Homo sapiens: one gene and its partners. The protein of the gene in region 2 purifies or fractionates together with the protein of the main gene of each other region. This does not show direct contact. Each region holds a gene or a part of one and is shown on either strand. Other genes may lie near its edges. The genes, in order: RALA, CNKSR2 and RLF.

Evidence for each region.
Region 1: the proteins of CNKSR2 (region 2) and RALA purify together in Homo sapiens (affinity purification with western blotting, with the first as the bait; one study listed by BioGRID). This does not show direct contact.
Region 3: the proteins of CNKSR2 (region 2) and RLF purify together in Homo sapiens (affinity purification with western blotting, with the first as the bait; one study listed by BioGRID). This does not show direct contact.

What each region holds. Positions count from the first base shown.
Region 1 is NC_000007.14:39,703,337-39,706,095, forward strand, and holds part of RALA (ras-related protein Ral-A precursor), read left to right. Parts: intron 1-2,759. UniProt on the Homo sapiens protein: Multifunctional GTPase involved in a variety of cellular processes including gene expression, cell migration, cell proliferation, oncogenic transformation and membrane trafficking.
Region 2 is NC_000023.11:21,608,418-21,611,917, forward strand, and holds part of CNKSR2 (connector enhancer of kinase suppressor of ras 2), read left to right. Parts: intron 1-653; coding exon 654-1,200; intron 1,201-3,500.
Region 3 is NC_000001.11:40,159,835-40,163,669, forward strand, and holds the start of RLF (zinc finger protein Rlf), read left to right. Parts: upstream 1-1,552; 5' UTR 1,553-1,565; coding exon 1,566-1,802; intron 1,803-3,835. UniProt on the Homo sapiens protein: May be involved in transcriptional regulation.

The DNA of each region.
Region 1 (2,759 bases), on a different chromosome or scaffold from region 2:
GGGGCAAAAACCCATGGCTTTTATGTCATCATTGTGTTCCGTTCTGTTGCATACTTTGTGTGTGGGTGTGTGTTTTATACTTTTTTCCCTTTAACCGTTTATGCTCCTTCATGTTGGTCCTATGTCCGTTTGACTCAGCCCATTCATCTTTGATAGTTTCGTTGCTTTCTGACTTAAATTTTATGCTTCTTGCTGCAGATCAGGAATCAGCCATTCATCTAAGGAACTCAGGTTCTGTTTAGGAGGAATGATATTTAGCAGCCACAGCATAGTTACATAATTTGCTTGTTGCTATTGTGTTGTCATTTTTCAGTGAATAGTTCTAGGAAATAGGTATTATTAAAAGAAAAAAATGTGATCATGTTGTTATTTCCAATTCAAATTTAACATTACAAATGTTTACATCTTTGATTTTGTACTTGTATCTTTTCTCTTACACTGAAGATCTTGGTTCCTAAATTACATTAACATAATTCCTCCCTTGCATTAATAAAATAGTTCCAAAAGAGCAACATTGCTGTCACAAACAAACTACAAAATGAAGTTTGGCTGGGTGTTGTGGCTCACATCTGTAATTCCAGCACATTTAGAGGCTGAGACAGGTAGATCACCTGAGGTCAGGAGTTCGAGACCAGCCTGGCCAACATGGCAAAACCCCGTCTCTACTAAAAATACAAAAATTAGCCAGACATGGTGGTGCCTGTCTGTAATCCCAGCTACTTGGAAGGCTGAGGCAGGAGAATCTCTTGAACCCGGGAGGCAGAGGTTGCAGTGAGCTGAGATCACGCCATCCCACTCCAGCCTGGGCAACAGAGACTCTCTCAAAAAAAAAAAAAAAAAAAGAAGTTTAAGATTTGTCTTTGTTTTGTTTTGTTGGAATTTTGTTTCTATTTTTATCCTTAGCATCTATTCTAAAATAGATACTTTCTATGCTGTCTTATAGACCTTTGAAATAATTCCTCTAGTCAGTCTTACTTGTTTGTGTCTTGTTTGTTTGTTTTTTGAAATGGAGTCTCACTCTGTTGCCCAGGCTGGAGTTCAGTGGCACGATCTCAGCTCACCGCAACCTCCGCCTCCTGAATTCAAGTGATCTGCCTCAGCCTCTCGAGTAGCTGGGATTACAGGCATACGCCACCACACCTGGCTAATTTTTGTATTTTTAGTAGAGATGGGATTTCTCTATGTTGGCCAGGCTGGTCTTGAACTCCTGACCTCAGGTGATCCGCCCACCTCAGCCTCCCAAAGTACTGGGACTACAGGCATGAACCACCACGCCTGGCCAGTCTTAATTTATTTTAATTTGATTTTCAATTTTTAGGATTTGCTATTTTGTTTTATTTTTTATTTTTATTTTTTTGAGACTGAGTCTTGCTCTGTCGCCCAGGCTGGAGTGCAGTGGCACAATCTCGGCTCAGTGCAACCTCCACCTCCTGGGTTCAAGCAATTCTTGTGCCTCAGCCTTCCCAGTAGCTGGGATTACAAGTGCCCGCCACCACACCCAGCTAATTTTTGTATTTTTTGTAGAGACGAGGTTTCACCATGTTGGCCAGGGTAGTCTAGAACTCCTGACCTCAGGTGATCTGCCCGCCTCGGCCTCCCAGAGTGCTGAGATTACAGGTGTGAGTCACCATGCCTGGCCTAATTTTATTTTTGAATACGTAAAACACCTATGTCTCTAAAGTAGAAATTCTATAACAAGATACACTCAGAGATGCCTCACTCTTCCTTGTACCCTCCTCCCTTCTTCAAAATGAAATTGATTATTAGGGTTTGGTTTATTATTTCATTGTTCTTTGTGCAAGGGCGAACAAATCCATGTATACTCCTGCCCTACACACACACACAGGTAGCGCTCCATCTGCTATTCTGTGCCTTGCTTTTTTCAGACGCGTTAGGAAAGGCCACATCAGTCATGACATACACAGGCTTCTTTACTCACAGCACTCATTGTCGCTTTCATATTTCTTGCTTTAGTCTGAGTTTTTTAATTCTATAAGTAAAAACATTTTTTAAATCCAGAATTCAAAAGTGATCATAAAAGTTATTCCTCCTTTTATCATATACTCTCAGCCGTTTATGTGGAGTAGGAGTGTGAGTGTGTAGCCTTCCAGACCCTTCTGTGTTACAGAACAGAGGAATTTCTTATTGAAATTTAACTTTGAATTGTTATACTCGTAATTTTCTTAGTTACTATGCTAATATCTCATTATTTACCGGTTCCTAGACATCAGACAAAAACTGATAAATTCTCAAATACAGAGTAACAGACAAAGTTGTTTCATAGTGTCTGGTATCAAGATGATAAAGCATACACCCATCTTCCTCAGCTTCATTTCTAAAAATGGAACTGAGGAAACCAAGTTATGAAATATAATCAAATTATTAAATATAAATTTAAGCATATATTATTAAATATAAATTAATAAAATACATTTATTGATTATAAACTACTTAAATATAATCCATTGAGTTCTATCTTTGGGTCTGTCATCACCTTATAGAACTTTTTAGACTTTTGTCTCGAAAACTGGAACAGAAAGATCAGGTTTTATTACATATGAACATTTTTACCATAAAGTGTAATTCAGAAAACTTCCTAGTTTCCTCCTTTTTTCAAGATACTAGGAAAATCAGGCTTTAGTTTTATGCTTTCCGCTCTGTACTCCCAAACAAGAGCTCTTAAATATTTATACTTCTGTTACCCCCAAAGTTTACTGCTGTGATTTGGAGAAGTACCAAGTTCATGTATCTGTTTGCTT
Region 2 (3,500 bases):
AAATTCCAGGGATAAAAATTTTCCATTTTTCTTTTATATTTATGTGCCCTGCAGTATCTATGCTCAAGGCTAATGGTAATCCCTAGCAATGTATAGTCTCATCCTGCCTAACATTTTTAACCCCATAGAAAGTAAGACCATCAGACAGCTTTTCTCTGGCACCCATAGGAGCAGACATTCTCCTATGAAGAAAAGGAAGGGTTCTTTCTGTTTATAGGCAGCCTATCCTCATATCCAAAAGACTCTCTCCTAGTCCCCAAGCCCAAGCTACATGAAATCAGGAATATGAATCCAGGGACAATACTTCTTCAGGATCTGAAAATGTATAGTTTTTAAAGTGAAATTTTTGTAGTTGCTGAATTTTCTTATGTAAGCACTAACTCTTATACTTGCATTGTTGTAAAATTTTGCATTAATATGTCAGATTTTTCATGAGACCTTGGTATAGCCGCATTCCAATACATCCATGTCTCTGTCTCTTAAAATGTAAGCTGGGGCCTAACTTTGAGATGTCTGCAAACTTGCCTAGTCATTAACATGACTACGTAAGAGTTCATCTACTTAAATATTACCTGGTAGAAACCGAATGTGTTCCTTGGAATGGAAGTGGTCTGTTATTTTGGCACAGACTAATCAGGGGCTCCTTTCTACAGATGAGTTGCGCCAGTCCTTATGTGGAAGCAAAACATAGCCGACTTTCCTCCACGGAGACTTCTCAGTCTCAGTCTTCTCATGAGGAGTTTCGCCAGGAAGTAACTGGGAGCAGTGCAGTGTCTCCCATTCGCAAGACAGCCAGTCAGCGCCGCTCCTGGCAGGATTTAATTGAGACGCCACTGACAAGTTCAGGCTTACACTATCTTCAGACTCTGCCCCTGGAGGATTCTGTCTTCTCTGACTCCGCGGCCATCTCCCCAGAGCACAGGCGGCAGTCTACCCTGCCAACTCAGAAATGCCACCTGCAGGATCACTATGGGCCATACCCCTTAGCTGAGAGTGAGAGGATGCAAGTGCTAAATGGAAATGGGGGCAAGCCTCGAAGTTTTACTCTGCCTCGAGATAGCGGGTTCAACCATTGCTGTCTGAATGCTCCAGTTAGTGCCTGTGACCCACAGGATGACGTGCAACCCCCAGAGGTGGAGGAAGAGGAGGAGGAGGAGGAGGAGGAAGGGGAGGCAGCAGGGGAAAACATAGGAGAAAAAAGTAAGTATGTTTCTGGAGATTCTTAGCCTGTGTACACAAAGTCCTGACCTTTTCAAACTTCTTATTTGAAGAAAATAGAACCTTGCTTCCCTTTTTTCTTAAAATAATAGTATTGCTATATAGTAAGTTAGGTCTCCCTTGGTGACCTACTTTCAGAACTTCAGTAACTTGGGAAAACATGATGAGTAATGAAGCTTATAATCTCAAGATACCCACAGCTGGAGCAAATAATTTTTTTCTCCAACTAGCCATTTGCCTTTTAAGGTTAATGGTGTTTTTGTTTTCTTCCTTCTCTTATCCACTTTATTCTCACTTGCATGCACCATCTCACTGGCCCACAGTGGTTGCCCCCTGAGTTGGGTTAAGAAACTATAAATGTTTCAAGCAGGTTGTTAGCAGAGCCTTGGTTGAATAACTGAGTATACACACACACCCACTCACATCTATACATATACATATTTATCTTCCCTTTTTATTGTCAGAAGATTTAAAGGAAAAATCCAAAAGATAGTTTTTCCAAGGAGAGATTTCACATAGCATTTCTTTCAACTCCAAATAGCTGAATTTGTTTCTAGAAACCAATTTTCCAAAAGCATCCATCTAATTTCTTGGTATGTGTGTTGATCGTAAAGCTCAATTTATGTGAATCAACTCTTATAAGAAAAGTCAATGAAGTAATCCTCTGCCTTGTTGACATTAAGAATATCTTTACTAGTTATTAAGTTCTTTATTCAACATGCCATACCAAGCCTCTGTTTATTACTAACATGACACATCAGTCCAGAAACCCAGGCTGGTTTAAGGGAAAGGCTGTAACTCAGTTATTTTAGTAAGAAAGAAAATCTAGGTTTGGCTACAAGTCCTGAACATAAAATGCACAAAACAAAATATATAGAAGAAATAGTATAAAACTGTTCACATCTCTTTATTCAAAATGCAGTCTGGGCCAATTAGCGCAGATAACTTGAGCAAATGGTGATGAAATCACAGTTACTTGTTTGGTACCCCTAGGGCAATAGACTTCTCTTTTTAAAAAGATGAAAGCAGAGTGTAGCCTTCAGCCCATTTTACAAATATATGGGACTTTGATTACAGAATATATTAGTGTAAGTTCTTCATCACAAATGGAAAAATATCTCAAAGTTCACAGATTACCAACAGGTCAAGAGCCCCATGTCAGTGTCAAGCTTGGCTCATTTAAAATGGTAGTCTCTTTGGAAATGACTGACAAGAAAATACAGTGGACCTCCCTTTATGGTGTGGATCTTCATTGCATTATTTAATATTATCTCATCTACCAACAAAATATAAGAATTGCTTGTAATAAAATTCATATGCTGTGGCAGTTTCCATGTGAAGTATATTTTAGCCATAATCTCCATGAGAAACATTATAAAAGGTACGTTGTTAGTACAGGAAAAGTAATTACCATTCATTACTTGCCAAGCCCTTTCAACATTCACATCTATCAGAGTTTATGGAAGAAATATTTAGGAGCCATGTTAGTCCTCTGCAGGAATTCTGGCAAGCATAATAATAATGTTTAATATTCTAAAGATTACTAAAATTAATAAATTGTCTTCTAAAATTTAAAGATGAGTTAGAAACTTCATTTCAACTGTCATTCAGGTACTACACAACTGCTGTGACTAAGTATGTGAGGTTTATTCTTTTACAAACATTGGAGAAAACACTTTATCTCAGCCATTTTAAGATAAACTGTGTTGAAATTAGGCACAGCCCTCTGAAATAGAGAATTCTGTTCAGAAAACATTTCATCATTCCTACAGGTTAAGTCACTAATGTTGTCTTGTTTTGAATAAGCTAGGCACTTAACAGTTCATCCTGGTCATTGAATAAGGGAAGAGTAGAAAGAAGCAAGCGTGTCCTAAGACATGAAGGGAAAATATGGCACCATGCTTGCTCATTCTTCAGGTTTCCAGTAGTCCACAGAGCACTTCTAGTTAGATAGCTTTCAATTTTTTTCTTCTAGATTATCTTTTTTGTTGTTTAGTGGATTGGATTTTTTAGCCAAATAGATGCACTCCTAAGTTGGTTGGGTTTTTTCTTTACATTTCAGATGAGTTTAGTGGGTAGTTATTCAGTGCTTTCCATCTTTTTCAGTGGGCTCTCTGTAGAATAATTGTTATAAGATAGAACAGACCTAGTAAGTGTGTCAGTAAATTTGGTATTGTACTTTTTGTCTTTATGGTTCAATATTGTGGGATGTTTCGTGCTATTTCAGTCAGATCTGCTTCACTGAAAGTGGCCTTGCACTGTCTTTCAGGCCCCATTTCTTT
Region 3 (3,835 bases), on a different chromosome or scaffold from region 2:
GGCGCCCGCCACCACGCCCGGCTAATTTTTTGTATTTTTAGTAGAGACAGGGTTTCACCGTGTTAGCCAGGATAGTCCTGATCTCCTGACCTCGTGATCTGCCCGCCTCGGCCTCCCAAAGTGCTGGGATTACAGGCGTGAGCCACCTCGCCCAGCCCGGGAACTGTTTTGGATACTAATCAAAACAATGGTTATGGCTGGGCGCGGTGGCTCACGCCTGTAATCCCAGCACTTTGGAAGGCCAAGGCGGGCGGATCACTTGAGGCCAGGAGTTCGAGATCAGCCTGGCCAACACAGTGAAACCCCGCCTCTACTAAAAATACAAACATTAGCCAGGCATGGTGGCGGACGCTTATAGTGCCAGCTACTTTGGGAGGCTGAAGCACGAGAATCACTTAAACCTGAGAGGCAGAGGTTGCAGTGAGCCTAGATCGTGCCACTGCACTCCAGGCTGGGTGACAGAGTGAGACCCTGTCTCAAAAAACAACAACAATAAACAATGGTTATATATATGGGGAATATCATTTAGTCTGTGGCTTGTCTTTGTGTGCTTTTTCAACTTGTTATACGGAAGTAACACATTTTAATACAGTCAAATCTAAATATTTTCCCTTATGGTTTGTGCTTTTCCGGTCTTATTAAGAAATTCTTAGCCGGGCGCGGTGGCTCACGCCTCTAATCCCAGCACTTTGGGAGGCTGAGGCGGGCGGATCACCTGAGGTCAGGAGTTCGAGACCAGCCTGACCAACATGGAGAAACCCCATCTCTACTAAAAATACAAAATTAGCCAGGTATGGTGGCGCATGCATGTAATCCCAGCTGCTCCGGAAGCTGAGGCAGGAGAATGTTTGAACCAAGGAGGCGGAGGTTGCGGTGAGCTGAGATAGCACTGTTGCACTCCAGCCTGGGCAACAAGGGTGAGACTCCGTCTAAAAAAAAAAAAAAAAATTCTTCCCTATTTTTGACATTATAAAGCTATTTTTATTTTCTGAAAAATGTTTGCAGGTCTTTAATCCATCTCGGCCTTATTTTTGGAAATGGTTTGAGGTAGAAATCTAATCATTTATTTCCCTTTTGGAAAAAATGTCTCATCGCCATTTATTGAAGAGTCTGTCCTTTCGCCCACTGACTTGTAATGCCGTCTGTATCATAAACCAAGTTCCCTTGATGTTACTCTTCATTTCGGCCTCACAATCTTTGCTTATTTTCCTTCTACCAGGGATGCTTTTCGCTATGTTCCTTTCAGGGCTACCTTCCTCTTGTCCCTTCAGATCGCAGTTCAAATGTCATCCCCCTCAAATCTAGATTGCTCTACAGGCATTTCTGGCTCCGTGATCCCATGACCTCAAAGGGGTCTAGGTGGGCATAGCCTCTAGCCAGTTGTTGCTAGGCTGTTGTCAGGACTGGCGATGCGTAGGCCACTGAGAGCACCCGGAGTCCGAGTGACGGAATCAGGCGGGCGCCCGCGTCGCTAAGGAGTGCGTCACAGTGCGCGGGCGGCCGGGGGCAGGGCCAGGGCTGAGTCACGTGGCTTGGTTGCCTACGCGCTGGTGGGCCGTGGGAAGATGGCGGACGGAAAGGGAGACGCCGCCGCTGTCGCCGGGGCTGGGGCTGAGGCTCCGGCGGTAGCGGGAGCCGGAGATGGAGTCGAGACTGAGTCCATGGTTCGGGGTCATCGCCCCGTATCTCCAGCGCCGGGAGCCTCGGGACTGCGGCCGTGTCTGTGGCAGCTGGAGACAGAGCTGAGGGAGCAAGAGGTGTCGGAGGTCTCATCTTTGAACTACTGCCGGAGCTTCTGCCAGGTGAGGGGCTGACTGGCTGGCTGAGGGCGGCGGGGCGGGGAAGTCAGGGAAGGAGGCCCTGGATCCTCTGTAAGCAGCCGGGTCCAAACTGAAAGGCGCCACCTCCGTGACTCGCCGCGCCCCCGGGCCGGGAAGGCCCAGCTCGGAAGCTCGACCGCTGGCCCCCCTGCGCCACTGCCCGACTTTGGCCACCGCTGGGTCGTTTTGCTCTGAGCCTTACTGAGATCCCGGAGGGCCCTGGCGGGTCCCTGGAAGGGCTGTGCCCTGTCGCCGTTGCCTGTGTCCTGGCCGGGTGGTTGGAGCGCCACTGCCCCCTGAGGGATTGATTGCTTGTCCCTGCCGGGAGATCCTTTTTTGAGTGGAGTGCAGATCTCCGAACTGGTAAACCCGGGTTTTTCTGAATAATCCAGAGAGGTGTGTTGGGGCCAGAGACTTATTTTTGGAGTTAACATCTTCTGGGCTCCTAAAAGGTATGACAGTTGGCTTCGAAAGGCGTCTAGAGCTTTCTGATTAGGGATTGCGGAGCCGGTTGGTTGTTTGGTTTTTGCTTTTTTTTTTTTTACGTTTAAGCCGTTCTTTCGTCTTTTCTGTATTTCTTTGAGAGGATTGTGCTACCGAGAATAAGGCTGACTCTTTGAGTAGAAGAGGATGGGAAGAGGGATGTAGAGTGTGGCCTCTTTTGGCAGTCGTATGATCATTTCTGTGCCTTGGTGGGTCCTAACCTATGATTACATATTTATGGGTGTGTTTAGTTTAGTCTCCATGACCACTCCGAGATTTTTCTGTATGTTTTCAAGTCTTTTACAAATACAAATATTGGCCATTATTATTTCTGCTTCCAATGTTTGTTCTGTCAGGTTTCAGAGGCACCCATCAGCTCCTTATCTGTTGTACCTTAGAAAATGCAAAATAATCGTGGCATGTTGGTACTTGGAGTCTAATAAGTAGTCCAGTATGCTGAATAAATTGCGGCGTTCTAAAATAATAATTTTGGGGGGCAATTTGCTCTGTTGGTCCGGAGTAGAATAAAAGTTAGCTTGCTTGATTGCTTTTCTTCCCTCTCTCTGCCGAGGCAGAAGCACCTCATCTCTCTGAATGGAATTTTGTCCTTACTAATCTTTTCCGTGGATTGTACCACTCCAATTTTTGTGTGTACAACCTGCAACATTGCCCTGTACTATTAAATGTTAACGTGTTGTTGTTCTCTGCTTCCTTAGTAGTAGTCATCCCTGTTTAGTAAGCTCATTTATTTTACAGATTTTTACTGACTTCATAGGATAGTGCCAGGGACTTTACCAAGTGCTGGGGAAACATGAGTAAGACAGCACTTAGCCTTGATGAACTTACAGTTGGTGGGAGGTGGTAGGAATGACAGTATTTCCAGTGCGGTTTTGGTAATGATGGAAAAGGAGGTGTTGTAGAGACAATGGTGAGGAGAGAGCCTTCATGGGATATCCTGATGGGAAAGACAATTAACTAGAAAAATAAGTAAAAAGGTTAATTATAAATTGTAGTATGTGCTTAGAAAGAAGTAACTGGGAGAGGCCACTTTAGTTAGTAAGACCCTATGGGCTGCAAGGATGAAAATGAGTCACGTGAAGGTCTGGGGTGGGGAAAGCATCCCAGTGCCAAAGGTAGAGATTGGTAAGGACCCAGAATGCTATGGGAGGAGGGGAAACTAATGGAAGGAGAGGGGTGGTGCAGGAAAACAACTGTGGGTTTTGGGTAAGGCTTCTAAGCTTGAGTTGTCTCCCTGGAAAGATGACAAGAATGAATGTAACCAGTCACATTGAAGCTTGTCAAAGGATCACATATATATGTATTCTGCTTTATGTCTAGTGCTTGCAACTGCAGTTTTGTTTAAGGTAATGTTTTAATGTCTTGAGTCTTGGTGACACCAGAGATGTGATGGCCCAGAAGAATTTTTAAAAGAAAGCATGTGTAATTTGTCTTTTCTATGAAGTTTTTTTTAACCTAAAATTTTCCCAAAAAATGTTTTTTAGACTAATAAATGAAACAAGAACAAGTATTCC